2 separate regions of the Homo sapiens genome follow, and region 1 is linked to region 2. The links come from fine-mapping of genetic effects on gene expression. A gene starts in region 2. The other region holds a variant in brackets. All regions are shown on one strand. Distances are from middle to middle.

Region 1 (12,347 bases), 21 kb after region 2:
GGATCTCATAGCTACTATACTTGTTACACAGGTATAATCTTAAGATGTGTGCAGTTTAATTGAAAAGTGAGCATAGGCTGGGCACAGTGGCTCACACCTGTAATCCCAGCACTTTGGGAGGCCCAGGCAGTTGGATCACTTGAGGTCAGGAGTTCAAGACCAGCCTGGCCAACATGGTGAAAATGTAAAAACTAGCTGGGCGAGGTGGCAGGAGCCTGTAATCCCAGCTACTCAGGAGGCTGAAGCAGGAGAATCATTTGAACCCAGGAGGCGGAGGTTGCAGTGAGCTGAGATTGCACCACTGCACTCCAGCCTGGCGAGAGAGCAAGACTCTGTGTCCAAAAAAAAAAAAAAGAAGAAAGAAAGAGAACTGAGCACAACTTGAAACAATAACAGCAAAACCCAAAGTTACCATCTAGAAACATTGTAGAGAAATTTTTGAGTAAGGAGATGAAAACAAAAATCCCAAAGCCATAGAGCACGGTGGCTCATGCCTGCAATCCCAGCGCTTTGGGAGGCTGAGGTGGGAGGATCACTTGAGCTCAGGAGTTTGAGACCAACCTGGACAACATGGAGAAACCCTGTCTCTACAAAAAATAAAATAAAATAAAATAGTTGGCCTGGTGGCTCATGCCTATAGTCCCAGCTACTTGGGAGGCCAAGGTGGGAGGATCACCTGAGCCTGGGAGGCCAAGGCTTCAGTGAGTCGTGATCGTGCCACTGCACTCCAGCCTGGGCAACAGAGTGAGATCCTGTCTCAAAAAAAGAAAACGAGGGAGGGAAGGAAGGAAGGGAGGGAGGGAGGGAGGGAGGGAGGGAAAGGAAATCCCTAGAGCTTCCAAGAAGAAACAGAAATAAACTGCCTGCAGATGAATAAGTGAGACTGTCCACAGACTTCTCAGTGAAGCTGTGCACAGAAAGGCCATGCCGCAGCCTCGTGCATGTCCACCCCACTGCGGCCTCTCCTGTCTCCCACTATAGCCCACTATAGCCTGCCCCCGTAAGGCATGGCCCAGACCAGCCCTCCGTGCCTGCACGGCTGCATCTGGCTAGTCCACCTGAATGCACTCCTCCAACCCTGACTCCACGCTGGTCTCCACTCCCTCCCTGTATCCCCAGGCCTCTCATCCTGCATGCCTGCCCCAACTCTTTCCAAACCCTCATGTCAAGACCAAGTGCCACCTGCTCTGAGAGGCCTCCCTGATTTGTCAGCCTGAACTGATGACTTGTCCTTCTTTCCCCCTCTCCCCAACTCTGCTCACTACCTCGGTGGTCTTGTCTAATTCTCTGTCTTTCCTTTTTGGCCCAAGGGGCAGCACAGCCCCTGGACACAGACCCAGCTGAGATGGCATCTCAGCCTCTTACCCGCCAGCTGAGCTTGGGCAAATCACTTCGCCTCTGTGCCTCAGTCTCTTCCCCTGTAAAGTGGAGATAGCTACCCTACTTCCTGGAGTTCTCAGGAGCAGGAGCCTGTGTGTCAAACACCCACAGCCTTGCCTGGCACACAGTGGGCCCTCAGGCCACAGCAGTTGTCATCTGGGAGAACCAGGTGTCGGGGGCCATGGGCTGCTGGGTGATTTCCACAGGGTTGCTGGGAGCCTCCCTCTTGGGGCCCTCAGCCTTATGCCATCCCCTGAGCACTCTTGTCGCTATTTCATTTATGACACCTCGTTGATTAGGTCACTTTCAAACATGTGTCTTAAGGATAAAATAAAAACTGGTGGGTGGGGCTGAGGGGGTGCGGAATCCCAATTGCAGACCACACACAAACACACCCAAGCAGGTGCAGGCATTCGGAGCAGGGGACGTGGTGCCAGCCCCACAGGCAAGAGCCAACACCAAGGCAGAACCGGGCTCTACTCTGAATTGTGCCACCTTCATCCCTGGGCCGACAAATACAGTGCTTCCCGTGCCGTCAGCTGGGAGCCCAGGCCACCACATTTCAGCGCTTTACAGTGGAGGGCAAAGGGACTCCTCAGGAGTGGAGGTGCGCTCTGGCCCTGGCACATCTGGCTCGGGCGCTCCATGGGATATCCACGTCCCAAACCACAGCTCTGAAATACTCTTGGTTTCCCCAGCCAGGTCCCCAGCCCAGGCCCAAGAAAGACTGAGCATGGCAGCCAGGCACAGAGGCAGCCGGGCTTCTGGCCCCACCAGCATACAGAGACGCATTCTGAAGCTCGGATAGTGCGTGAGGTGTGAGGCTGCCTCTGCTGCCGGTGCCACCCAGTGGGAACCCCCTCCATGCCGGTGCAGCCCATGGACACAGGATGCTGGGGATGAAATGCTGACAGACAGGCAGGAGCCCACTCAGCTCCCCCCACTGACCTAAGGATCCTCCAAGGGGCTATTTCCGGTTGAATGTGATTGCATTTTCAGTGGATAATCAATGTTTGTTGTGGACACAAATCTGGAGAGCCCCAAAGACCTCAAACATGTCCCTCAAGAATGTCAAGGACGCAAAAGATAAATGCTTGAACTGGCTGGGCGCGATGGCTCACGTCTGTAATCCCAGCACTCTGGGAGGCTGAGGCAGGTGGATCACTCTGAGGTCAGAAACTCGAGACCAGTCTGGCCAACACGGTGAAAACGTTTCTCTACTAAAAATACAAAAATGAGCTGGGCGTGGTGGCGCACGCCTGTGATCCCAGCTGCTCAGGAGGCTGAGGCAGGAGAATCACCTGAACCCAGGAGATGGAGGCTTCAGTGAGCAGAGATCGCACCATTGCACTCCAGCCCGGGCAACAAAAAAAGACTCCATCTCAAAAAAAAAAAAAAAAAAAAAAAAAACTTGACCTGTTGGGTACCCTGATGTGGTTATTATGCATTGCATGCCTGTATCAAGATATCTCATGTAATCTCATGTACACCGTAAATATATACACCTAGTATGTACCCACAAAAATTAAATTTTTAAAAAATGGCAAGGAGGGCCAGGTAGGGTGGCTCAGGCCTGTAATCCTAGCAATTTGGGAGGCTATCGCTTGAGCTCAGGGGTTCAAGGCCAGCCTAGCAGCCTGAGCAACACAGCAAGACCCAGTCTCTGCAAAACACAAAACAAGAAGAAGAAAGTCAAGTCTGTCCCCAGTTCAGCGGCTCACGTCTGACTTCTCTCCTTGGCCTCATGCCCAGGGCACCTTCCTGAATCCCAGAGGTGAGCAAAACTCCACCTCCACAACCCCAGGGCACCCCATTGCCACCACCCCTCAGCCTTGGAAATGGAGTCACCAGGCATGAAGTTTAGATGTGCACAACCTGGCACCGAGTCCCTACGGTGGGACCATGCCCGCAGCGGCAGTGTGGAAGATGGGACAGACACAGCGAAATGCCTCCAGGGCGTGGTGGGAGGGGCCGGAACAGGGAGATGGCGCGTGAGTAGCATCTGTTCTTACAGCAAAACCTGTAAAAGTAAAATATACGTAGGTTTGTCACTAAAGACGTGTCTGCATAAATACACCCACGCCGAAGACTGTTCTGATCACCTTTTTATATAATTACCGTGTGTCCTTGTGGCTGTGTGGGTGGCTGTGTGTGTCTGTGCAAAGGTGTGCCTGTGTGCATCTGTCTGTCTGCAGAGGTATCTGTGTGTGTTTGTGTGTGAGTGGAGGTTCTGGAGAAGGCCTGGAAGGATCCTGTCAAACTGGAGGGGGGCTGCGGGATGAGGATTTTTCTTTTAATGCATCTGCCCAGTTTGAGTTTTACGAATGTTAATCATTTAAAGGCAGAAAAGATATCTTTGGGGGTTTTGGGTTTTTGTTTTTTGTTTGGGTACAGGGTCTTGCTCTGTTGCCCAGGCTGGATTGCAGTGGTGTGATCATAGCTCACTATAGCCTTCTAAGCCCTGGGTTCAAGTAATCCTCCCTCCTCAGCATTCCCAGTAGCTAGGAATACAGGCATGTGCCACCACGCCCAGCTAATTAAAAAAAATATATATATCTCTTTTTTCTTTTTTAGGGATGGGGTCTCGGGGTCTTGCTGTGTTGCCCAGGCTGGTCTCAAACTCCTGGGCTCAAGGGATCCTCCCAACTTAGCCTCCCAAAGTGCTGGGATTACAGGTGTGAGCCACCGGGCCGGTATAAAAAGATATCTAATTAAATTTTTTTGAATTAGTGGACTCCTCCCAGGCTCGTCCTCCTTCGCCACCCATTCCCAGCGCATTGCCCCCCGCCAGCCAGGTCCCCAGGCCTCCCAATCCTGCACTGTCCGCGGCGGCGGGGGTGGGGAGAGGAGGGTGCTTTGCACTCGCGGTTCCCCCCCCGGGAGCATTGATACCCCCGCCCCTGGGAGCATTGATCCTCCTGCCCCTGCAGCCCGGAGCCCGGAGCAGCCCACGTTGCTCCCGCTGCGGCCCAGCCCAGCCCAGCCCAGCCCAGCCCAGCCCAGTGCCGCGCCTGTCCTCGAACCTGGCCCAACGCTCGCCGGGAGCAGGGACCTGCGTGCAGCTATGGAACCGAGGCGCGGGCTGCGGGATCCCGCCCTACCTCCCATAAACCAGGGCCCGAGATAAGGGAGTCCCAGAGGGCCAGGGGAGTCGCGGGCCCAGCGTCTCAGTGGGCACGAATTTCTTACTTTAACCTCTTTTCTGTCGACCCCATCTGTCCCCACCTGGGAGGAGGGGGAGCAACAGGCCCCTTCCCGGTCGAGTTCAGGGCTCGGTACAAAGGCTGCATGATGCCACAGAGGGTGAATGGCCTGGTGCCAAGGCTGGGAGTGCCCAGACAGAAGGGCCACAGGGCATCCAAGAAGTGTGAGTTCAGGCCTTGAGGGCCTTGAAGGACGGAGAGAGTTCCTGACCAGGGAGAGGAGAGATTCTCAGCTGCAGGCACGGCTGGGACACAGGCCTGGTGGTGGGAAGGAGCAAGGGCCACTGTGGCTGGGGAAGGGGAGTGGAGCAGGGCTCAGAGGCTTAGTGCCCTGGGGAGCCTGGGAGTGTTGAGGTCTGGGAGGGCCTCAGGGAGTTGGGACGTGGGGTGGGGAGGATGTGGATGAGGTGTCCGCACAAGGGAGAGCCTTTTAAGCGGAATCCTCCTTGGGTCACTGGCCTGGTCCCAGCTCTGAAGAGGCTGGGGCAGGACAAAGAGCAAGGGTGTGTGGGGGTGAGGCCTTGAAAGAGACAAGTGAACAAATCCATCACTGGCTGAGCCAAGCCTCTCGAAGGTCCCACCAGGGAAACTGAGGTTGGGCCCCTGGAGAGTGGGGTGCAGGAATGGTCTGCTCCAGGAGGTGAGAACAGAGCGCATGACTAATGCCACCAGGACTACTCACGGCACTGACTTCATCGCCCAGCTTGCGGACATAGGGGCCTGGCTCAATTCGCCCAACCTGCCTTTCTGGCCCTGACCCATAGCCTTCAAACCCCACTCCTGACTCACTGTACCCCACCTCCCTCCCACAGGGAAAAACATACTGAGTGCCTAGGCCCGGCGCTGCTGTGGGGAGACCAGTGTGGAGTCACACAGGGTGGAGGGGAGGACCTAGAGCTGGGGTCCTGCTCCTGCCTGGCGCTGGGACCCAGCTTAGACGTGGCCTCTCCTAAATCCCCTCTTCAGCTCAGGCAGCCTGGTCCCTGGTCCTTGACCACATTCACGCTGCAGGATTTCATTTATATAAAGTACAAAACAAAGGTAAAATTAATCTATGGTGGTAAAAGTCTAAATAGTAGTTGCCTTTGGAGGCTTCTGGGAGCTGGAAATTTGCTGTAATGCAATCTGGATGGAGCCGTAGGTGGACATAGAGAAAAATCATCTGGTTGCTCACTTAAGGTTTTGCACGTTACTATAAATACACAAATAAATGAATATAATAACACCACACTGTTACTAATCATAGTTCCCCCATGTTCAAGCCCCTTCGTGAAGGTAGGCCAGACATTTCTGATGCTGTGTCCCCAGCGCACAGCCCAGGGCAGCCGTCTATCCTCACAGTGGTGAACAACTATCAATATCCCCATTTTATGACGACGGAAATTGCAGTTCAGGGGAACCAAGGAACCAACGTCTTGTCTGACTCCAAAACTCTTCCCAGAAAGCTCTGTGGCTGTTCTAGCTCTGTCCAGGGACGTTCATGTCTTGGAGAGGAAGCAAAGACAAGAGTCAGAGGATGCAGGGAAGCCAGGGTTTCTAGGAGTGGCACCATGGCTAGTTACCATCGTCAGGCTGTGATAGGGCCTTGGGAGGAGGGACGGGTGCTCTCCAGAAGGAAGTGATGTCAGTCTGAGTCTTAGAGAATGGATGAGGTCTAGAGCTGCAAAAACTGGACAGTGAGCCAGGCGCGGTGGCTCATGCTTGTAATCCTAGCACTTTGGGAGGCCGAGGCAGGTGGATCACCTGAGGTCAGGAGTTCGAGACCAGCCTTACCAACATGGCAAAACCCTGTCTCTACTAAAAATACAAAAATTAGCTGGGCATGGTGGTGCATGCCTGTAATCCCATCTACTCGGGAGGCTGAAGCAGGAGAATCGCTTGAACCTGGGAAATGGAGGTTGCAGCGAGCCGAGATCACGCCACTGCACTCCGGCCTGGACGACAGAGCGAGACTCCATCTCAAAAAACAAAAACGAAAACAAAAAACAATCCCTCTCCCTCTCCCTCTCTGTCTCCCCACAGTCTCCCTCTCCCTCTCTTGCCACGGTCTCCCTCTGATGCGGAGCCAAAGCTGGACTGTACTGCTGCCATCTCGGCTCACTGCAACCTCCCTGCCTCATTCTCCTGCCTCAGCCTGCGGAGTGCCTGCGATTGCAGGCGCGCGCCGCCACGCCTGACTGGTTTTCGTATTTTTTTGGTGGAGAC[G/A]GGGTTTCGCTGTGTTGGCCGGGCTGGTCTCCAGCTCCTAACCGCGAGTGATCCGCCAGCCTCGGCCTCCCGAGGTGCCGGGATGGCAGACGGAGTTGCGTTCACTCAGTGCTCAATGGTGCCCAGGCTGGAGTGCAGTGGCATGATCTCGGCTCACTACAACCTCCACCTCCTAGCTGCCTGCCTTGGCCCCCCAAAGTGCCGAGATTGCAGCTTCTGCCCGGCCGCCACCCCGTCTGGGAAGTGAGGAGCGTCTCTGCCTGGCCGCCCATCGTCTGGGATGTGAGGAGCCCCTCTGTCTGGCTGCCCAGTCTGGAAAGTGAGGAGCGTCTCTGCCCGGCCGCCATCCCATCTAGGAAGTGAGGAGCGTCTCTGCCCGGCCGCCCCGTCTGGGATGTGAGGAGACCCTCTGCCTGGCAACCGCCCGTCTGAGAAGTGAGAAGCCCCTCCGCCCGGCAGCCACACCGTCTGAGAAGTGAGGAGCCCCTCCGCCTGGCCAGCCGCCCGTCCGGGAGGGAGGTGGGGGGGTCAGCCCCCCGCCCGGCCAGCCGCCCCGTCCGGGAGGTGAGGGGCGCCTCTGCCTGGCCGCCCCTACTGGGAAGTGAGGAGCCCCTCTGCCTGGCCAGCCGCCCCGTCCGGGAGGGAGGTGGGGGGGGTCAGCCCCCCGCCCGGCCAGCCGCCCCGTCCGGGAGGGAGGTGGGGGGGTCAGCCCCCCGCCCGGCCAGCCGCCCCATCCGGGAGGTGAGGGGCGCCTCTGCCCAGCCGCCCCTACTGGGAAGTGAGGAGCCCCTCTGCCCGGCCAGCCGCCCCGTCCGGGAGGGAGGCGGGGGGGGTCAGCCCCCCGCCCAGCCAGCCGCCCCATCCGGGAGGTGAGGGGCGCCTCTGCCCGGCCTCCCCTACTAGGAAGTGAGGAGCCCCTCTGCCCGGCCACCACCCCGTCTGGGAGGTGTACCCAACAGCTCATTGAGAACGGGCCAGGATGACAATGGCGGCTTTGTGGAATAGAAAGGCGGGAAAGGTGGGGAAAAGATTGAGAAATCGGATGGTTGCCGTGTCTGTGTAGAAAGAGGTAGACATGGGAGACTTCTCATTTTGTTCTGTACTAAGAAAAATTCTTCTGCCTTGGGATCCTGTTGATCTGTGACCTTACCCCCAACCCTGTGCTCTCTGAAACATGTGCTGTGTCCACTCAGGGTTGAATGGATTAAGGGTGGTGCAAGATGTGCTTTGTTAAACAGATGCTTGAAGGCAGCATGCTCGTTAAGAGTCATCGCCACTCCCTAATCTCAAGTACCCAGGGACACAAACACTGCGGAAGGCCGCAGGGTCCTCTGCCTAGGAAAACCAGAGACCTTTGTTCACTTGTTTATCTGCTGACCTTCCCTCCACTATTGTCCTGTGACCCTGCCAAATCCCCCTCTGCGAGAAACACCCAAGAATGATCAATTAAAAAAAAGAAAAGAAAACAAAAAACAAAACAAACAAACAAAAACTGGACAGTGGATGGTATCCCAGGTTGAAGAAACAGCAGAAACAAAGACTGGGAGGGAGTACTGTACAAGTTGTGGTCTGGATAGTTGGGCTGGAGCAGAGGATGCTGGAGGAGGCTCAGCAGGGCAGGTATGACCGTCACAGCCACTGGCTGGCACTAGCCAATGCAGGGTTCTTCTGGGAACTCTGGGGTCCTGAAACTAAGGCAGCTGAGGAACTTCCAGAATGCTTTAATAAATTAATATCAAACATGATTTGCTTTTGAGCTAACGTCAGCCGTGCCAAGATTCACAAAAGAGGCTGGAGAAAGGAGATTCTGGCAGGGCAGATCTGATGTCATCCACTAAGCATGGAGCCTTGTGCTATCTGGAATCTGGGATGACACAGCCTGAGCCTCCCCACCCAGGTGGCTCCCACTGAGATACCCACACTGTGATCATTGCCAAGGACACCAGACACTTCAAGCAACCCAAGGGAAGGAGGGCAGAACTCTGCTGGGTGGCCAGGGCAGTCCAGGCAGGCACATAGGGTCCAGAGGGAAGAAAATCAAGATGTCCTCCAATTCCATCCTAGATATTGTAACTGAACCTAGGTTTGATTGCTCAACCCTCAAAAGCCAGACACAAGAGATGAGGGTTGGTGGGAGGAAAAGCAGGCTTATTCAGAGAGCCGGCAAAACTGAGATGGGGAACTCGTGCTCTAACGTACCATCTTAAGGCCTGGGGTGGTGGCTCATGCCTGTAATCCCAGCACTTTAGGAGGCTGAAGTGGGTGGATCACTTGAAGTCAGGAGTTCAAGACCAGCCTGGCCAACATGGTGAAACCCCGTCTTTACTAAGAATACAAAAATTAGCCAGGCATGGTTGGGCGTGGTGGCTCATGCCTGTAATCCCAGAACTTTGGGAGGCCGAGGCAGGTGGATCACCTGAGGTCAGGAGTTACAGACCAGCCTGGCCAACATGGTGAAACCCTTTCTCTACTAAAAATACAAAAATTAGGTGGGGCGCGGTGGCTCACACCTGTAATCCCAGCACTTTGGGAGGCCAAGGTGGGCGGATCACCTGAGGTCAGCCTGACCAACATGGCGAAATCCTGGCTCTACTAAAAATACAAAATTAGCTGGGCGTGGTGGTGGGTGCCAGTAATCACAGTTACTTGGGAGGCTGAGGCAAGAGAATCGCTTGAACCTGGGAGGTAGAGGTTGTAGTGAGCCGAGATGGCACCACTGTACTCCAGCCTGAGCGACAGAGTGAGACTCTATCTCAAAAATATAAATAAATAAAAAATAAAGTCCCATCTTCAGTATTTCAGGCTGGTCAGAGGCTTTTTGTGGGAGGGGGGATATGGGGAAACCATGTGCAGGGCTTGGGATCAAGAGGTGACCGAGGACCACAGACATCTAGGAGCCAGCGAGGGTCTGAAGAGGTTGGGAACTTCTTTGTCCTTAGTCAAGGGTCATGATGCTCCTATAAATCCTTAACAAAACGTAGTTCCTGGCTTACCTACTTCCCCTCTAATCCCAGAGTTAGTTTTACGAACTACATGATTGCTGTTTGTGCATTTTATCTCAGTGCTGTAAATTATCCCGGCTTACAAACGGGAATGGGTAAAGGCCCCTTGAAAAAAAAAAAAAAGGACTGGGCATGGTGGCTCACACCTGTAATCCCAGCACTTTGGGAGGCTGAGGCAGGCAGATCACTTGAGGTCAGGAGTTTAAGACCAGCCTGGCCAACCAACATGGTAAAACCCCATCTCTACTAAAAATACAAAAATTGCCCAGTCGCGGTGGCATGAGCCTGTAATCCTAGCTACTTGGGAGGCTGAGACAGGAGAATCACTTGAACATGGGAGATGGAGGTTGCAGTGAGCTGAGATCGTGCCACTCCACTCCAGCCTGGGCGACAGAGCAAGACTCCATCTCAAAAACAAAACAAAACAACAACAACAACAAAAAATAGAGTTAGTTGTGTCCGTTCTTTTCCACTGTTACAGTATGACCACTGGTGAACCTCTGCAGAGATTGTTTGAGGGACAGAGTTTCATTTTCATTGAAAAAGTTGTTCAGGGCCTGGCTCGGTGGCTCACGCCTGTAATCCCAGTGCTTTGGGAGGCCGAGGCGGGCAGATCATGATGTCAAGAGATTGAGACCATCCTGGTCAACAAGGTGAAGACCTGTCTTTACTAAAAATACAAAAATTAGCTGGGCATGGTGCCACATGCCTGTAGTCCCAGCTACTCGGGAGACTGAGGCAGGAGAATCGCTTGAACCTGGGAGGCGGAGGTTGCGGTGAGTGGAGATCGCATCACTGCACTCCAGCCTGGGTGACAGAGCGAGACTTCATCTCAAAAAAAAAAAAAAAAGTTGTTCAGGCCAGGCGTGGTGGCTCATGGCCCATGCCTGTAGTCCCAACACTTTGGGAGGCTGAGATGGGTGGATCCCTCGAGCTCAGATGTTTGAGACCAGCCTGGGCAACATGGCAAGACCCTGTCTCTAGTAAAAATACAAAAAAATAGCTGGGCATAGTGGTACACACCTGTACTCAGGAGGCTGAGGCAGGAGGATCAGTTGAGCCCAGGGGGCAGAGGTTGCAGTGAGCTGAGATCATGCCACTGCACTCCAGCCTGGATGATAGAACGAAATCCTGTGTCCAAAAAAAAAGAGATGATCTAGTAACTAGGACCACAGGCATGTGCTACCACACCCAGCTAATTTTTTATTTTTATTTTTATTTTTTATTTTTTGAGACGGAGTTTCACTCTTTCACCCAGGCTGGAGTGAAGTGGCGTGATCTCGGCTCATTGCAACCTCCGCCCTGCCTGGTTCAAGCGATTCTCCTGCCTCAGCCTCCTGAGTAGCTGGGATTATAGGCACTTGCCACCACGCCTGGCTAATTTTTGTATTTTCTGTAGAGATGGGGTTTCATCATGTTGGCCAGGCTGGTCTTGAACTCCTGACCTCAGGGGATCCACCTGCCTTGGCCTCTCAAAGTGCTAGGATTACAGACATGAGCCACCACGCCCAGCCTCACAGCCAGCTAATTTTTTTAAAATTATTTGTAGAGATGGAGTCTCACTATGTTGCCCAGGCTGGTCTCAAACTCCTAGGATTAAGCAATCCTCCTGCCTCCGCCTCCCAATGTGCTGGGGGTACAGGCGTGAGCCACCATGCCTGGATCATCAGTGGATCATCTTAAAATCAATGACATTTTACACACAAGTGTGACCGGAAAGGGGTCTGATCCAGACCCCAAGAGACAGTTCTTGGATCTCATGCAAGAAGGAATTCGGGCAAGCCCACAGAGTCAAATGAAAGCAAGTTTCTTAAAAAAGTAAAGGAATAGGCCAGGCGCGGTGGCTCATGCCTGTAATCCCAGCATTTTGGGAAGCTGAGGAGGGAGAATAAAAGAATGACTACTCCACAGGCAGAGCAGTGGCACGGGCTGCTCTACTGAGCATACTTATGGTTATTTCTTGATTAGATGCTAAACAAAGGGTGGATTCTTCATGAGTTTTCCAGGAGAGGGGCAGGCAATTCCTAGAACTGAGGGTTCTTTCACTTTTTAAACCATATCAGGTAATTTCTGGGCATTACCATGGCATCTGTAAACTGTCATGGCACTGGTTGGAGTGTCTTTTAGCATGCTAATCCTAATGCTAATGTATTGTAGTTATTGTATAATGAGCAGTGAGGATGACCAGGTCACTTTCGTCACCATCTTGGTCTTCGTGGGTTTTTGCTGGCTTCTTTATTGCATCCTGGTTTATTTATTTATTTATTTATTTTTATTTATTTATTTATTTATTTTGAGATGGAGTCTTGCTCTGTCGCCCAGGCTGGAGTGCAGTGGTGCGATCTCAGCTCACTGCAAGCTCCGCCCCCCGGGTTCACACATTCTCCTGCCTCAGCCTCTCGAGTAGCTGGGACTACAGGTGTCCGCCGCCATACCCGTCTAATTTTTTGTATTTTTAGTAGAGACGGGGTTTCACTGTGTTAGCCAGGATGGTCTTGATCTCCTGACCTCGTGATCCGCCCACCTCAGCCTCCCAAAGTGCTGGGATTACAGGTGT
Region 2 (15,285 bases):
AGGCCTAGTGCAGGCGGGTCCCAACAAGCCTCAGGGGCCCAACCCCAGCCATCACCTGGCCAATAGCAGGGGCCCACCAGCCTGCGTCTTCCCATCTGGGAAATGGGGACGCCATTCCTCTATGCCCGTCAGGCTGTGGAGTGGCCAGCACATTAGTCTGAGCCCTGGGGGTGCCAGCACTCAGTAGGCACAAGCTGGTACTATTGTCATTAAAGGAAGTGCTCTGATCTAAGAGGAAAAGCTGGTCTTGGGGCGATGGCCTGGCCCTGGCTTGTTTCAACAAGAGCAGGCCCAAAGCTTGCAGGCTTGGGAGCCACCAACTGGAAGTAACTAAAAACTGAGCAGTGCACGAGGCAGCTGAGCATGGGCAGCACAGGGCGCGACTCAAGGAGGGAACAGATGCAGGGAGCCCCAGGTCACCTCACCTGCCTGCAGGCACCTGCTGGACTGCAGCACGTGGCTGAGGGACCCCCAAGGAGCTGAACGAGCAGAGAATGGCACTCAGGGAGCCCGAGACACCCACACTGCAGGTACAGGGGGCTCCTGCCAAAGGCCTGAGGCCCAGAGAAGCTTTGCTGGAGCAGGAGCTCCATGACAGTTCTGAAAACAGCAGCTGCTGGAGCTTTGCACCCAAGGAGTTCCAGAGGTGGCACAGGCTGGGAGTCCCAACCCACTGGGCAGAAAGGCCTCACTGAACACCCCAGCCTCCAGTGGGCCCCCCGGAAGCCCTGTCTTAGGAGTGGGTCTACTCTGCACCCACCCAAGGTCAGTTGACTGACTCCTTGACAGGAGAAAACAACCCACGCTTTTTGCAAAGATTGCAAAGATCTACCATCTTCAGCTCCAGAGCGCCCAGGTCCCTGGGGGAGTGGGAGTGGGGACGTGCCAGGAACACTCGGGACCACGCCATGCAGACTGGATGTGCAGGAGAGGGTCGTGGCTGAGGTCACCCTGGGTACGGTCAGGATGGAGTAGTAACTGAAGCCAGGGCTTGGAGGTGGTCAGCTGCCAGGGGTCACAGAGGTTCAGGGACAAGAAGAGAGAGCAGGTGTCCCTCGACTTAGCCAGGTCATGGTGTCTCAGCAGGAGCCATTCCGGCACAGCCCGAGGCAAGGCGAGGGTGAGATGAGGTAGCGAGGGTGGGTCTGCCTAGGGCATGGGGCAGGGAGGGCAACAGGGAGGCACCAGAGGACGGCAGGATGGGAAGGAGATGCCAGGGTGGGCGTCATGGAGATGCCAGGGTGGGCGTCATGGAGATGCCAGGGTGGGCATCATGGAGAAGGCAAGGGTCACTGGAGCTGGGTGCCAAGGGGACTCAGGAACTCCTCGAGAGCTATGGAGCATTATTTCTGGGTGTCTGTCAAGGTGTTTCCAGACTGGCAGAGGGTAAGTGGACTGAGTGAGGAAGGCCCGCCCACAATGTGGGCCAGCACCATCCAATCAGCTAGGGCCCCGATAGAACAAAAAGGCAGAGACAAGGGTCTCCCTCCTGTCTTTCCCTCCCTCTCTCCTCCCATCCTTCTCTACTTCTCCCACCACTTCCCTCTCTTGGAGCTGCAACACACACTTCTCTAGTCCTTGGATATCAAAACTCCAGCCTTTGGACTCCAGGAACTACACCAGCACCCTCCACCCTCCGCCTGCTTTCAGGCCTTCAATATCATACTGAGGGTTCCACCGTCGAGTTCCCTGGTTCTGAGGCCCTCAGACTCAGACTGAACCACGCTACCCCTACTGCCACCCCTGGGTCTCCAGCTTGCAGACAGTCTGTCATGGGACTTTACAGCCTCCATAATCACATGAGCCAATTCCCCTAATAAATCCCCTCTTCGAATGGATGGATGGATGGATGGAAGGAAAGAAGGAAGGGAGGGAGGGAGGGAAAGGGAAGGAAGGAAGATAGGAAGATAGATCGATATATCGATTGATCCAGGCATGGTGGCTTACATTGTAATCTCAGCACTTTGGGAGGCTGAGGCAGGAGGTTTCCTTGAGCCCAGGAGGTCAGGATCAGCCTGGGCAATATAGCAAGGCCTTATTATGCAAAAAGTTTAAAAATCAGCCAGGTGTGGTGGTGTGTGCCTGTGGTCCCAGCTACTTGGGAGGCTGAGGTGGGAAGATCGCTTGAGCCCAGGAGTTCGGGGCTGCAGTGAGCCGCAATTGCACCACTGCACTCCAGCCTGGGCGACAGTAATGGCAAAAACAGATAGATAGATAGATAGATAGATAGATAGATAGATAGATAGATAGATAGATAATAGATGTGAGAGATAGATACATAGATCCTATCAGTTCTGTCTCTCTGGAGAACACTAATACAGGGCCTCTTCCAGGGCCTCAAAGAAAGGGGGACAGGGAGAATGGGTGGGGCTGGGGAGTGGGAGTCAATGGGTTCCATGGCCTTGGGCCCCATCTTCTCTGGGCCACAAGAGAGGGGGAAAGCCCAAGGCAGAGAAGGACAGGGAGAGACACAGCTCCCTGGCAGCCCCATGAGGAATTGCAGGCCTGCATGGGCTCTGGCTAGACACCCAAACCTGGCCCAGCCTGGGAACTCTGTCCTGCTGTGGGCACTCAGCTGACCTCAGGTGTGACTCTGCCCTTCCACACCTCCAGCCTGGATGGCAGGAGTAGCTGGGAGACACATGTGCCTTGAGGGCTCTCTGCTCCGTGGGGCAGCACAGAGCCCGACGTGCACAGCCACCTGGAACCAAGATACACAGACCCACACAGACGGTTTCCAGCAGCGGCCCCAGGTGAGGCACAAGGCATCTGGGCAGGTGGCCATGAACAACAGCTGTTGCTAGAAGTCACCCTGTCCAGGCAGGACTCAGGAAGGGTCTGAGGTCAAGGGAGGTGCAAAGAAGGGCCCACCAAGGTGCAACAAGGCTGACCGAGCCAAGACTTGAACTCAGGACCCCCGACTCCAGGCCTGCACAATGGTGAGCAAGGCCCCGATGTGGACTCAGACTCCATCAGCACCGATCTAGTGCTTGGCTACACTGCCACAGAGCACCCAGAGAAAATTCTGGATCAGATCTGGGCGCAGTGGCTCACACCTGTAATCCCAGCACTTTGGGAGGCTGAGACGGGCAGATCACTTGAGGTCAGGAGTTCAAAACCAGCCTGGCCAACATGGTGAAACCCCGTCTCTACTAAAAATACAAAAATCAGCTGGACAAGGTGGCGTGCGCCTGTAGTTCCAGCTACTTAGGAGGCTGAGGCAGGAGAATTGCTTGAACCTGGGAGGCAGAGGTTGCAGTGAGCCAAAATCACACCACTGGACTCCAGCCTGGCAACAAAGCGTCTCAAAAAAAAAAAAAAAAAGAAAGAAAAAATCATGGATCAGGCTCAGTCAGACTCCTGTGTGCCCTTGGGCAAGCCCCTGTCCCTCTCTGGACCTGTCTCCTCAGTCTCCATCTGTAAGGCATCTGCTCTGACAGCCTCTGTGGCTGGGAGCCCATGGAGGTGGGGTCTTCCCTAGGGGCCTATGGAGAAGAAGGGGCAGCAGATGCCAAGGTGTGAAACGTCTGCACACTTATACCAGTTAGCAGGCTCACTCATAAAATGCCAGAGGGCAGAGCCAGAGGCAGGGCCTGCTGAAGGGAGGCCAGCCCAAAGCCCCCTGCACCCACAGGACAGTTGCATCACCCTGGTGCGACTCTGATGGGTTACAGCCTTTGCCCAGAAATGCTCCTGACAAATCTGCTGAGCCATTGAGCAGAGGGACCGCATCAGAAACAGGCAGCCAGGCCAGAGAGGCTGCTGTACCCTTGCCTCCAAGAGTAGCAGAGACAGGGCCCCCCCACGCCACACCCCTACTCCCAGTCACAGGCCACTCCACCCCTGCCCCTCCTGACTAGCTGGCAATAAAGTCACTTTTGTCTTGTCCCCAGCAGGGCTCCCAAAAGCAAAGGGGCCTCTTATCTCTTCCACACTGGGCCCCAGTGAGCCCCCAAGCCCTGGCTCTGGCAACATCTAGGGAGACCTGCTGTATCACCTTCCCAGGGAGGCCAAATGCCATCATATGACAGTCACTCACTGGCCACATGGGAGGTGCCCGTCACTGCCCATCATCCCTCCAACATTCCACCTCTGCCGCCACCTGCTTCCCAGCTCCCTGTTCCACCACAAACCTGCTCAGGGTTGACGATGCCACCTGGTGGCCACAGCAGGAAATGCTTCCATACAACGTGGCCTCTTCCCCACCCATCCACAGCTGAGTAACCTGACCTGGGACAAGCTTCTCCTCACAAAGGCAGCAAAGCCCTCCTAATCCCCTCCTTCCTAAACTTCTTCCTCCCAGCCCTGGCCTAATGCTCTGGGAAGCCACCTACCCACAGCTTCCATCCCTGCCACCTGAGGTTTTGTGCCAAGAGACAAGCCTGACCCTGTCCAGTGTGGGAGGCACCCTGGGACCTAGTTGGATCTGGAAAGTGTGGCAAGTGTCCAGCTTCTCACCAGCCGCTCACTAAACCTGCCTTTCATTTCCAGTGACAAATATATACTGAAGATCTGGGAGCAGCCAGGCCCCCGTACGTTACAGAGATGGGTTTACCCTGCAGCCGGGCAGCTCTGTGGCTGGGAGATGGAGCCCCAGGATCCCCTTGTGGCTCTGGCAGTTTGGTCCTGGATTTTACCAGTTACCACTGACAGAGCCTCAGCCCCGGCCTTTCTGAAGCAAATAATCCAGCAACAGCCAGCAGTTTCGCTTCCGGGATTTCCTCTTTTGTTTTTCTTTATTTGAATTTTTGTATTACCATGTGTGCCCTGCTTTCATAATTTAAAAACAAACAAAATTACAAAGCTATTCATTTTCAAAAAAAAAACAAACCCAGAGCTTGCCTCTTACTCCACCGGCCACGCCTGGCTGGGTCTCTGATGGGGCCAGTCTCGCTGGCTCCGGTCCTGCCCTTTCAGGTCAGGGAGCCTCAGCCCTGGCCTAGGAGACCCCACTTTCTTAGGAAGTTATGTTCTAGGGAGCATGTCCCCCTCCCCGGCAGGAGCTGGAGATGGACTTTGGCCCCAACCCACAGAGCTCCTGGAGCCAGCTCTTTGCAAGGACTTCCTGGATTCTGACTGTCAGATTATGATCTTTATTGAACATCCCTGGGCACCCAGGAGCTTGGCATAGGCTGCAGGAGCCAGCTGGGTGGGGCAGGAGGCTGCCTGAGCACCAGCCTGGCCTGTGTGTTCCCCGGCAAGTTGCTTCCCCTCTCTCAGCCTCACTCCTGCCTCTTCTATAAAGAGATGCTGGCAGTTACACAGAGCATTTCTCCAAGGCCTGGGAATAGCATAGGCATGGAGGAAGCAGAGAGTATTCCCTGTCCTTAGGGAAACGACAGCCCTTGCCAGGTCTCTGAGACATTAATCATTATCATCGCAGCTGATACTCATCGAGTCCTGGAATAAGCACTTTACATATCACCTCGTTTAATCTGCACAGCAGCCCCATTAGGAAGGTATGATTTATTAACCCCTTTTCATTTGCCCAGGCCCCAACTCCTTCATCTGTTTACAGACTCACCCGTGGCTAATAAGTGGGTGTCAGGGTCCTTGCCAGGGGTTCAGCTCCACAGCCAAGCTCTTGAACTGTGCCCCAAAGAGCCCAGAGCCCAGAGGGCTTGGAGCCATGGAGGGGAACCCAGAGGAGGGGTCCCCATCCAGCTGGGCCAGGTCTGGGAGCAGTGGAGGGGCTTTCTGCAGGAGGTGGGACTGAACTGAGCGAGCAAGGCTAAGCAAGACAGAGCCTGGCAGAGCAGGGAGGAGGGACATTCACCTGGGGGAACAGCTTGTGCCGGGGAGGGAGGGAATGGCACATTCCAAATTTATTAGCTGAAAACAACAGGTGGAAAGGAAGCCCCTGCTTCCGCCCTGCAGGAAAGGGAGCGTGGACCAAGCTGGAGGGCCCGCCCTGAGGACTTGTGCTCCCCAAGCCCTGGCCCCAGGTGCCTCTCCCTTTTCCAAGTCTTTCAACCTTCCTAGCCACCACCTCCAGAAAGCCTCCTGGATTGGTTCCAGGGCCTGTGGCTTCCCTCTTTAGAGAGAGCTCCTTCCCCACGTCCTGGAGGGCCAGGTACCACCTCGGGCACCTTCCCAGCTGAGATATCATCTCATCCTCACACCTACTCTGCCTGGTAGGACGACTGCCCGTTTTGCAGATTGGGAAAGTGAGGCCACAGCCCAGAGTGTCTGGATCCCTCCAGGTGGCCCTGAGGTAGGCCCAGCTCCTATTCTATGGATATGAGCTCCTAGGGACCAGGACACTGGCTGCCATGTGCCTCTTGCCTTTTCCACATGGTGCCAGATACCCAATGAGTCCTGTGAAGTGAAGCTGGGGATAGCCAGGGGAGGGGACAGAAATGCAAACAGGGCCAAGGAGGCCCCTGCTCCAGCCTCAGCCCCACCTCAGACCTGCTGAGGGGCAGTAGCCAGGACACCTGCCCTGTTCACATGATGAGCAGGGAGGGAGGGTCAGATGACCCCCAAGGTTCCTCCCAGCCCTCCCCAGGAGTTCCACAGCATACGGGAGGCAGCTACCACTGCTGGGACCAGACGATGCTGGGCTGCAGCTCACCTCCCAGGAGAAACCACAGCAGTCACAAACCCACATAGAGGCTTCCAGCTCCTGAGGCCCCAGTTACCCCGGGATGCAGTCACAGGCTAGCCACCCAATGTATCTTGGGTTTCAAACATTTAAAAGTCATGGTATCTCAGTATGCTGCCATGGGATTAAAAAAAGAGGAAGAAAGAAAAAGTTGGCTGGGCGCAGTGGCTCACACCTGTAATCCCAACAGTTTGGGAGGCAGAGGCGGGTGAATCACCTGAGGTCAGGAGTTTGAGACCAGCCTAGCCAACATGGTGAAACCCCATCTCTACTACAAATACAAAATTAGCCGGGTGTGGTGGCGGGTGCCTGTAATCCCAGCTACTCAGAAGGCTGAGGCAGGAGAATCGCTTGAACCTGGGAGGCGGAGGTTGCGGTGAGTGGAGATCGCATCACTGCACTCCGGTCTGGGCGACAGAGCAAGACTTCCTCTCAAAAAAAAAAAAAAAAAAAAAAAAAGTTGTTCAGGCCAGGCGTGGTGGCTCATGGCCCATGCCTGTAGTCCCAACACTTTGGGAGGCTGAGATGGGTGGATCCCTCGAGCTCGGAAGTTTGAGACCAGCCTGGGCAACATGGCAAGACCCTGTTTCTAGTAAAAATACAAAAAAAATAGCCGGGCATAGTGGTACACACCTGCAGTCTCAACTACTCAGGAGGCTGAGGTAGGAGGATCAGTTGAGCCCAGTGGGGAGAGGTTGCAGTGAGCTAAGATCGCGCCTAGCCAACATGGTGAAACTCCATCTCACTACAAATACAAAAATTAGCCGGGTGTGGTGGCAGGTGCCTGTAATCCCAGCTACTCAGAAGGCTGAGGCAGGAGAATCGCTTGAACCTGGGAGGCGGGGGTCGCAGTGAGCCGAGATCGCGAGACTCTGTCTCTAAATAAATAAATTAATTAAATTAAATAAAACGCCCGATTAAAATGTGAAACCTCCATCAAATAAGTGCAAATTAAAGCCACAGTGAAATGGTATTGTTTCCCCAATCTGACTGAAGATTACAAAGTGTGGCAACGCGCGGTGCTGACTTAGGCAGGGCGGGAGGGGCGGGCCTGTCTCAGCCTGTGGCGATTTGGTGGCATCTGGCAAAAGCCACTCTCCAGACGCAGGCCCTTTAACCCCGTAAGCCCGGGCCAAGGACGACTCACCGGGGCCACCTTGCTTGTGGGTGGGATGGGGCCTCTGGCATGAACGAGAGTGACTCCGAGTGGGTAAAGATGCCCTCCTCGCAGAGGACACGAAGCAACAAGGAAAACAGCCACCACGTAATAAGCGACATGCCAGAATAGAAGGATTCTTTAGTACAATCTTTGCTTTTTTCAAAGAAAACACGCGCGCCTCTCATTCGCGTTTGCTCCCTTCCCGGCGCTCATCCGCCCTGAACTCCAGCCTGGGGCGCCCGTGGCCGCGAGACCCAGGGGCTCTGAGCGCAGCAGGCGCCCAGTGACTGCGGGTGGAGGCCCCGCGTCGCGCAAGCTGCCTCCGCGCCAGGGAGCGCGTGCGCCTCGTAGCGCGTCCCGGGGCCGCCCCTGCGCCCTCGCGTCCCAGCATCCCAGAGCCCCGGCCCTGGCCCCGGGAGTGGCTCGCGAGGAACAGCTGGGACGCGCTCCCTGGCGCTCGGACCCGTACTGGGGTCCTCGGAATCCTCAGGTCCCAGGGAGTTTCAGACCCGGCCAGGGTGGGGGACCCTCGGGGAGCCGGCCGGGGACCCCAGGGAGGGGAGCGGCAATGGCGGAACGCCCACTGGAATTTGGGCCAGAGCTGGAGCGGCCCGTCTGGGCTCGACCCCACGACGCGACTCCAGACGGGCCAACGGGGCGGTCCCCACCGGGGTGGGCCCCGCGCGGCGCTCACCCAGTATCTCCTTGCGCCGCTGCGTGTGCGGCTGGTCGGTGTAGACCCACTCGAAGTCGCTGCGGCTCGCGCTGTTGCCCATGGTGGGGCGGGAGGCGCCGTTCGGAGCGCGGCCGGCTCGGCTCTGCTGCACCTGTCGCGGCGGCCGCGGCGCGGAACCAGCTCTGATTAGGGCGGGGGCGGGGTCCCGGCGGGGCGGGGCCAGGTGCGCCAGGCTTGGGGCGGGGCACCTCTGGCTGGGCGGGGCGGCCGGGCCCCGGCGCTCTCCAGACCCCGGCGGGTAGCTGGCGCTTTGGGAACCTCAGTTGCCTCGGTTGGAAATGGGGCTCCCCGGCAGGACCGAGGTGGCCGCGTGCCATCTGCGCGAGTCCCTGGGTCCCTCGATGCGCGGGGGCGACTGCTGCCACCGCGGCCTCCCACCGGCTCTGCGCGCCCCGCCCACCCGCGGGCAGCCGTCGGGTTTTTACCCCGGCCCGTTCTCTCCGCAGCCCCGACCCGCTCGCGGGCACGCCCCTGTGGCTCGCGCCGCCCCTGCCCCAAGGAGGAGCGGCTGGCAGGATAGGGGGACTGCGGAGGATCGGCGTGGAATGGATGCGACGGTGCCAGTAAACAGGCGCCGAGGAAAGGTTGGTGCAGCAATCCTCCCTTCCTCCACCCGGCCCTTTCACCAATAATGCAAAGGGGAGATAATGCGTCTGCAGCAACCTCACAGGGATGAGTCAGACCCACTCCTGCCTTCAGGGAACTTGAGTTCTGGATGGGGACACAGGTACAGAAGTGGCTGTTATGATTCAGGGTGATACGTGCCATGACACAGGTAGGCCCTGAAGCAGCTAGGATCCAATAGAAGGAACTTTTGCATTGGGCCTTGAGGGGTGGGTAGGAGTTCAACAGCTAGAAAAGGGAAAGGCATTGGTGCTAGGGGGAACAGCAGATGCAAACGCTTGGAAACAAGGCAGAACCTGAATGTTCTCAAATGGAAAGTCTAGTTTTGGGGAGGTAAGGGCACAGGGCCCCTCATCTTCACCCTCTCAGTGATGCCTCTGTTCCTTCTCCCACTCCCTTGGAGTTTTGGAGGGTGGACCTGCTGTGCCTGTGGGCCAGAGCCTGGCCTCGGCTGGCAGTTGCCTGGGAGCTGACTGACACATCAGCCAGCGCTGCCACAGGCTCGCACATAGTGAGGGCGTGCTTCTGTGCGTCCCATGGAAGTCCATGGCCCGGGGTTTGGTACACTTGGCAGGCCTTCCTTAGCTCAGGGCCAAAGGCAGTCCTGAGTGAGCCAGGAAGGAAGGCATGGGTGTCCTGCAGCCGCCAGCCACCATCCCCTGAATTAGCCATGGGAAAGGTGGACACAGAGGCCAGATTTTCCATCAGCAGGGGGACCCACATGCCACCATGGCCATCACCCCTTGCCACACCCAGGAGGCCTCCCGGCCCAGCTTGCACCCTTGGGAGAAGACTCATTGCTCCCAGGGCAGCCTGCTCTGTTCCCAGCCAGAAGGGTCCTCAGAAGTCATCCCACCAGCCATCACTTTACAGATCAGGAGACTGAGGCCCAGAGATGAGGAGCGCCTTGCCTGAGGCACAGAGGAATTAACAGCAAGGCTGGGGCATGACTTTGGCCCCTGACCTTTGAATTAAAAAGCTTCCAAAATCAGAGCCTTCGCCCCTGTGTTGAACTCCGTGAGATCTGCCGCCCTGAGCCCCAGCTCCACCCTCAGGACAACACCAAGCCTGCCAGTTCCCTCTGCCCCAGGCCACCGCCTATCCAGAGGAAACTCACCAAGGCCCTCATTTTCCAGATGAGGAAACTGAGGCCAGAGAGGGGACAAGTCAGAGGACATGCTGAAGAAGACCTGGGAGTGGAACAGACACCCAGGATGCATGAAATCAAGTCTGATGCCCTTGCCAAGTGCTCCCCAAGTCCCTGGGGAGCCAGAAACCCAGCTTCACGGTGTTGACGAGCCAGGAGCACATACTGTTGCGTCCCCACCCTGTCCGTTGTCCCAGAAATGACAGAAAATACATTTTCGTTTGTAATGTGGTGTCTTGAATGGGATCCTGGAGCAGAAAAAGGACATTAGGTAAAGCTAAGGAAAGCCTAGTAAAGCTGGACCATAGTTAATCATAGTGTATCAATATTGGTCCATCAAAGGCAACAAATGCACCATATTATAAGATATTAAAATAAAGGAAACTGGGTGTGGCATATATGTGAACTTTCTAAACTATCATCACAGTTTTTCTGTAAATATAAAGCTGTTCTGAAAAATAAAGTTTATGGCCGGGCATGGTGGCTCACGCCTGTAATCCCAGCACTTTGGGAGGCTGAGGTAGGCAGATCACCTGAGCTCAGGAGTTCGAGACCAGTCTGGCCAACATAGTGAAATCCCGTCTCTACTAAAAATACAAAAATTAGCTGGGCGTGGTGGCAGGCACCTGTAATCGAGGCAGGAGAATTGCTTGAACCTGGGAGGCAGAGGTTGCAGTGAGCTGAGATTGCACCATTGCACTCCAGCCTGGGCGACAGAGCGAGACTGCATCTCAAAAAATATAAATAGGCCGGGCACGGTGGCTCACACCTGTAATCCCAGCACTTTGGGAGGCCGAGGCAGGTGGATCACGAGGTCAGGAGATCGAGACTATCCTGGCTAACACAGTGAAACCCCGTCTCTACTAAAAATACAAAAAAAATTAGCTGGGCATGGTGGCGGGCACCTGTAGTCCCAGCTACTCGGGAGGCTGAGGCAGAATGGCATGAACCCGGGAGGCGGAGCTTGCAGTGAGCCGAGTTTGCGCCACTGCACTCCAGAGCCTGGGCAACAGAGCAAGACTCCGTCTCAAAAATAAATAAATAAAAATAAATAAAATAAATAAATAAATAATAAAATAAAATGAAGTTTATTAGGCCAGGTGCAGTGGCTCACACCTGTAATCCCAGCACTTTGGGAAGTCGAGGCAGGCAGATCACCAGGCTGGTCTTGAACTCCTGGACTCAAGGAATCCACCCACCTTGGCCTCCCAAAGTGCTGGGATCACAGGCATGAGCCACCGCGCTCAGCCAAAATATAGTTTCTTTTAAATATAAAGTTTGGGAGTGTACACACACACACGCGCACACAGCATTGGAAAGCAGGGACTCTTTGGACTGGAAACTGAGAGGGAGCCCACCACGGCCAGCTACTCTTCAGTGGCCCCTTGGCCTCCCTCCACACCCCCATTTCCCCTGGGCCAGGCAGCAGCAGGGGTGGGGTGCTGGTTACCTCTCAAGAGGGCCCTGATTGTAAGCCCCCTGGCCGGAGTGCTGTGCCAGGAGCAGGATGGGCCTCCACCCAAAAGCCTCAATGACAGTATTAGCTGCCCCATGCAAAAAGGCCTCCACTGCCTCGTGTTTGCAGAAAACAGGCCAGAAGACATTTCACACTGCCCCTCCCACACCTCCCAGGAGCCAGCAAGGAGTCAGACAGCCCATGACCCAGAGACAGCACACGTCGGAGGAAAGCCACAGAATGAAAGGGCAACCGACCCAAGAAGGAGCAGAGCCTGACAAACAGATGTTGAGGAAAGCAGACTCGATGGAGGAGTGAGAGCAGTGCCCCCAAGACTGAGCTAGAGATAGACATTTAAAAAGTGCTCATTTAAAAACCACACCCGAGCCGGGCGAGGTGGCTCACGCCTGTAATCCCAGCACTTTGGGATGCCGAGGCGGGTGGATTATCTGAGGTCAGGACTTGAAACCAGCCTGGCCAACATGATGAAACCCTGTCTCTACTAAAAATACAAAAATTAGCCAGGCGTGGTGGCACACGCCTGTAAATCCCAGCTAGTTGGGAGGCCGAGGCAGGAGAATCGCTTGAATCCAGGAGGCAGAGGTTGCGGTGAGCTGAGATTTCGCTACTGCACTCCAGCCTGGGAGACAAGAGCCGAACTCCATCTCAAAAAATAAAATAAAAATAAAAAAATAAAAACCACACCCCTCTATTGAAACGGAGCCCGTGGAGGAATCGAGACATGAGGACAGTTTCAGGATCCAAGCGGCCTCATAGCCAGACTGCTAGGAAAGGATGGAGAAGAGGCAACACTGGTCCCTACCCAGCCTTGTTTCCTTCATAGAAGTCATCCCACTGAAATTGTAATTACAATTTAATTATATGTAATTAGGGGTTATCCCTACAGGAAGTAAATTATTATAGCAGGTACTTATTTACTTGTTTATTTTATTATTACTTTTTAAAGATAGGATCTCACTCTGTCATCCAGGTGAAGTGCAGTGGTGCAGTCTCAGCTCACTGCAACCTCTGCCTCCCGGGCTCAGGTGATCCTCCTACCTCAGCCTCCTGAGTAGCTGGGACTATAGGTGCGCCCACCACACCCAGCTTATTTTTGTTCTTTTGGGGTTTTTTTTGCAGAGACCGGGTTTTGTGGCCCGGCGAGGTGGCTCATGCCCGCCCATAATCCCAACACTTTGGAAGGCTGAGGTAGGCAGATTAACTTAAGCCCCGGAGTTTGAGACCAGCCGGGACAACATGGCAAAACCCTGTCTCCACAAAAAATACAAAAATTAGCCAGGTGTGGTGGCTCGCGCCTGTGGTCCCAGGCGCGATGTAGGAGGATGGCTTGAGCCTCCATGTTCCCCAGGCTGGTCTGGAACTCCTGGGCTCAAGCACTCTTCCTGCCTCGGCCTCCCAAAGTGCTGGGATTCCAGGGGTGAGCCCCCGCGCCCAGCCGTCCTTGTCTATCGTAACAGGGCCTCCTCTAGAATGCCCTGTTCTCTGGGGATCACCCCTGGTATCACCAATGCCTAGAACATTTTCTGGCAAAGGAGTTGCTGTTAATAATGATTTGCTGGGCTGGGCGTGGTGACTCACCCCTGTGATCCTAGCACATTGGGAGGCCGAGGCGGGTGGATTGCTTGAGGCCAGGAGTTCAAAACCAGCCTGGCCAACATGCTGCAACCCCGTCTCTACTAAAAATACAAAAAATTAGCTGGGCATGGTGGCGGGCACCTGTAATCCCAGCTACTCAGGAGGCTGAGGCAGGAGAATCACTTGTACCAGGGAGGCAGGGGTTGCAGTGAGCCAAGATCGTGCCACTGCACTCCAGCCTGGGCAACAAGAGCGAAACTCCGTCTCAAAAACTAATAATAATAATAGTAATAATAAAACAGTGATTTGCTGAATGAATGACAGAAGGAAGGCATGAGTCTTCAGACCGAAAGGCTTAAGGGTGCCAACAACATTAAAATTTGGCTTAATCACTTTGGAAAACTCTTCAGTAATATCTATGAAAGCTGCGCATGCCAGGGTCTATACCCAGGAGTAGTGAACATGTGTGGCCACCAAATACATGTGCGAGAATAGTCCTGGCAGCTTTATTAGTAAAAGCCAAAGCTGGAGGTAACTCCAATGTCCAACAACAACAAAAAACGAAGAATGGATAAGCCGCTTATGCTATCTCCTTACACTGCAATGGTGGGTGGTAATAAAAAATGAATTACTGCCACCCACAGAACATTTTTATTTTCTGTGTCTGATGCTTTTATTTTCTGTGTCCTGGGGCCTAGCTGACCCTAGAGAGGCTGCCCCTCCTAGGACTAGAGATTCCTTCTCAGATGCCAGTGACCACCTCACAGCCCACAGCCCACTACCTCCTCTGTCTCTCACACTCAGGGCCAATATTCCCCTGCCCTGATCACACCAGGGCCAGGTATCAGACAACTCCGGACAGCCCCTCTGTCCCAGAGCCCTGAAATTACTCAAACCAGCCAGTCCAAAGCCTGCTCACCCTGCCTTGACTGTTTCTTCCCACAGAAACCCCAATAAAGGCTCTTGCTCACGTTTCCCTCTCCTCCCCCTGACTTCAGCAGACCCCAGCGTTCGCCCGTGTGTCCCCGACCCGCGCCGTGTGGCGCAGCCCCTGCTCTTGAGAACTGTGAGTGACAAACCATCTTTTCAACGGCAACATCCCCTGATTTGTGGGCCTCACTACACCTGCCTGCATTTCAAGCAGTGGGCGCAGCTAGCAGGGTGGAGTGAGGCGCCACTGCGCTGCTCTCGGTAACTGGTTCCACCGGGCGGCCGCGGACGGGCGGTGCCCCCGCCTGCGCCGCCTGGTGCTGCTGCTGTGGACGCCTCTCCGCTCCGAACTCAGGACCTGGGTCCTCTGAGCTCTGATCTGAGCTGTGCCTGCCTCCTTCCGGGCTGGCTGGCCAGGTTCCCCAAGGCTCCTCCAAAGGGAGCCACGGGAGGGACTTCCTCCTAGTGTTTGGGGGTGCCCCGCAGGCGGCCCTGCTAAGTGGGGGCAAACAGAGCTGCTGTTTGGGGGGCTTTTCAGGCTGCCTGGGGGAATTGGGGGAGACTGCATCAAAGAGTAGGGGGAGGCTGCGGGGCGAAGGAGGCCCCCTGAAGTGGGGTGGGGGGAGCCTGCCCGGAGAGTCAGGGGAGCCTGCCTGGGAGAGTGGGGGGAGCCTGTCTGGGGGAGTAGGGGGAGCCTGCCCGGGAGAGTGGGGGGAGCCTGTCTGGGGGAGTGGGGGGAGCCTGCCCGGGAGAGTGGGGGGAGCCTGTCTGGGGGAGTTGGGGGAGCCTGCCCGGGAGAGTGGGGGTAGCCTGCCCGGGAGGGTCGGGGGAGCCTGTCTCGGGGAGTGGGGGGAGCCTGTCTGGGGGAGTGGGGGGAGCCTGTCTGGGGCAGTCGGGGTAACCTCTCTGGGGGAGTGGGGGAAGCCCATCCAGGAGAGTGGGGGGAGCCTGTCCGGGGGAGTGGGGGGAGCCTGTCTGGGGGAGTGGGGGGAGCCTGCCCGGGGCTGTGGGGGAGCCTGCCCGGGGCTGTGGG

Evidence for each region.
Region 1: its variant is fine-mapped to the expression of DEGS2 in whole blood (TOPMed, PIP above 0.99).

The regions. Positions count from the first base shown.
Region 1 is chr14:100,173,692-100,186,038 of GRCh38, forward strand. No RefSeq gene overlaps it. Among named protein-coding and RNA genes, the nearest start is that of DEGS2, 20 kb to the left of the region's middle. The variant G/A (reference allele first, on the strand shown) is at 6,789.
Region 2 is chr14:100,151,049-100,166,333 of GRCh38, forward strand. DEGS2 (delta 4-desaturase, sphingolipid 2) reads right to left here and starts at 8,597. Exons shown (of 3, transcript NM_206918.3): 1 at 8,458-8,597. The coding sequence starts at 8,539. It overlaps LOC124903380 (a long non-coding RNA gene), which reads left to right and starts at 8,989. Exons shown (of 2, transcript XR_007064330.1): 1 at 8,989-9,083; 2 at 10,260-10,666. RefSeq lists silencers at 8,384-8,443, 8,544-8,943 and an enhancer at 15,022-15,285.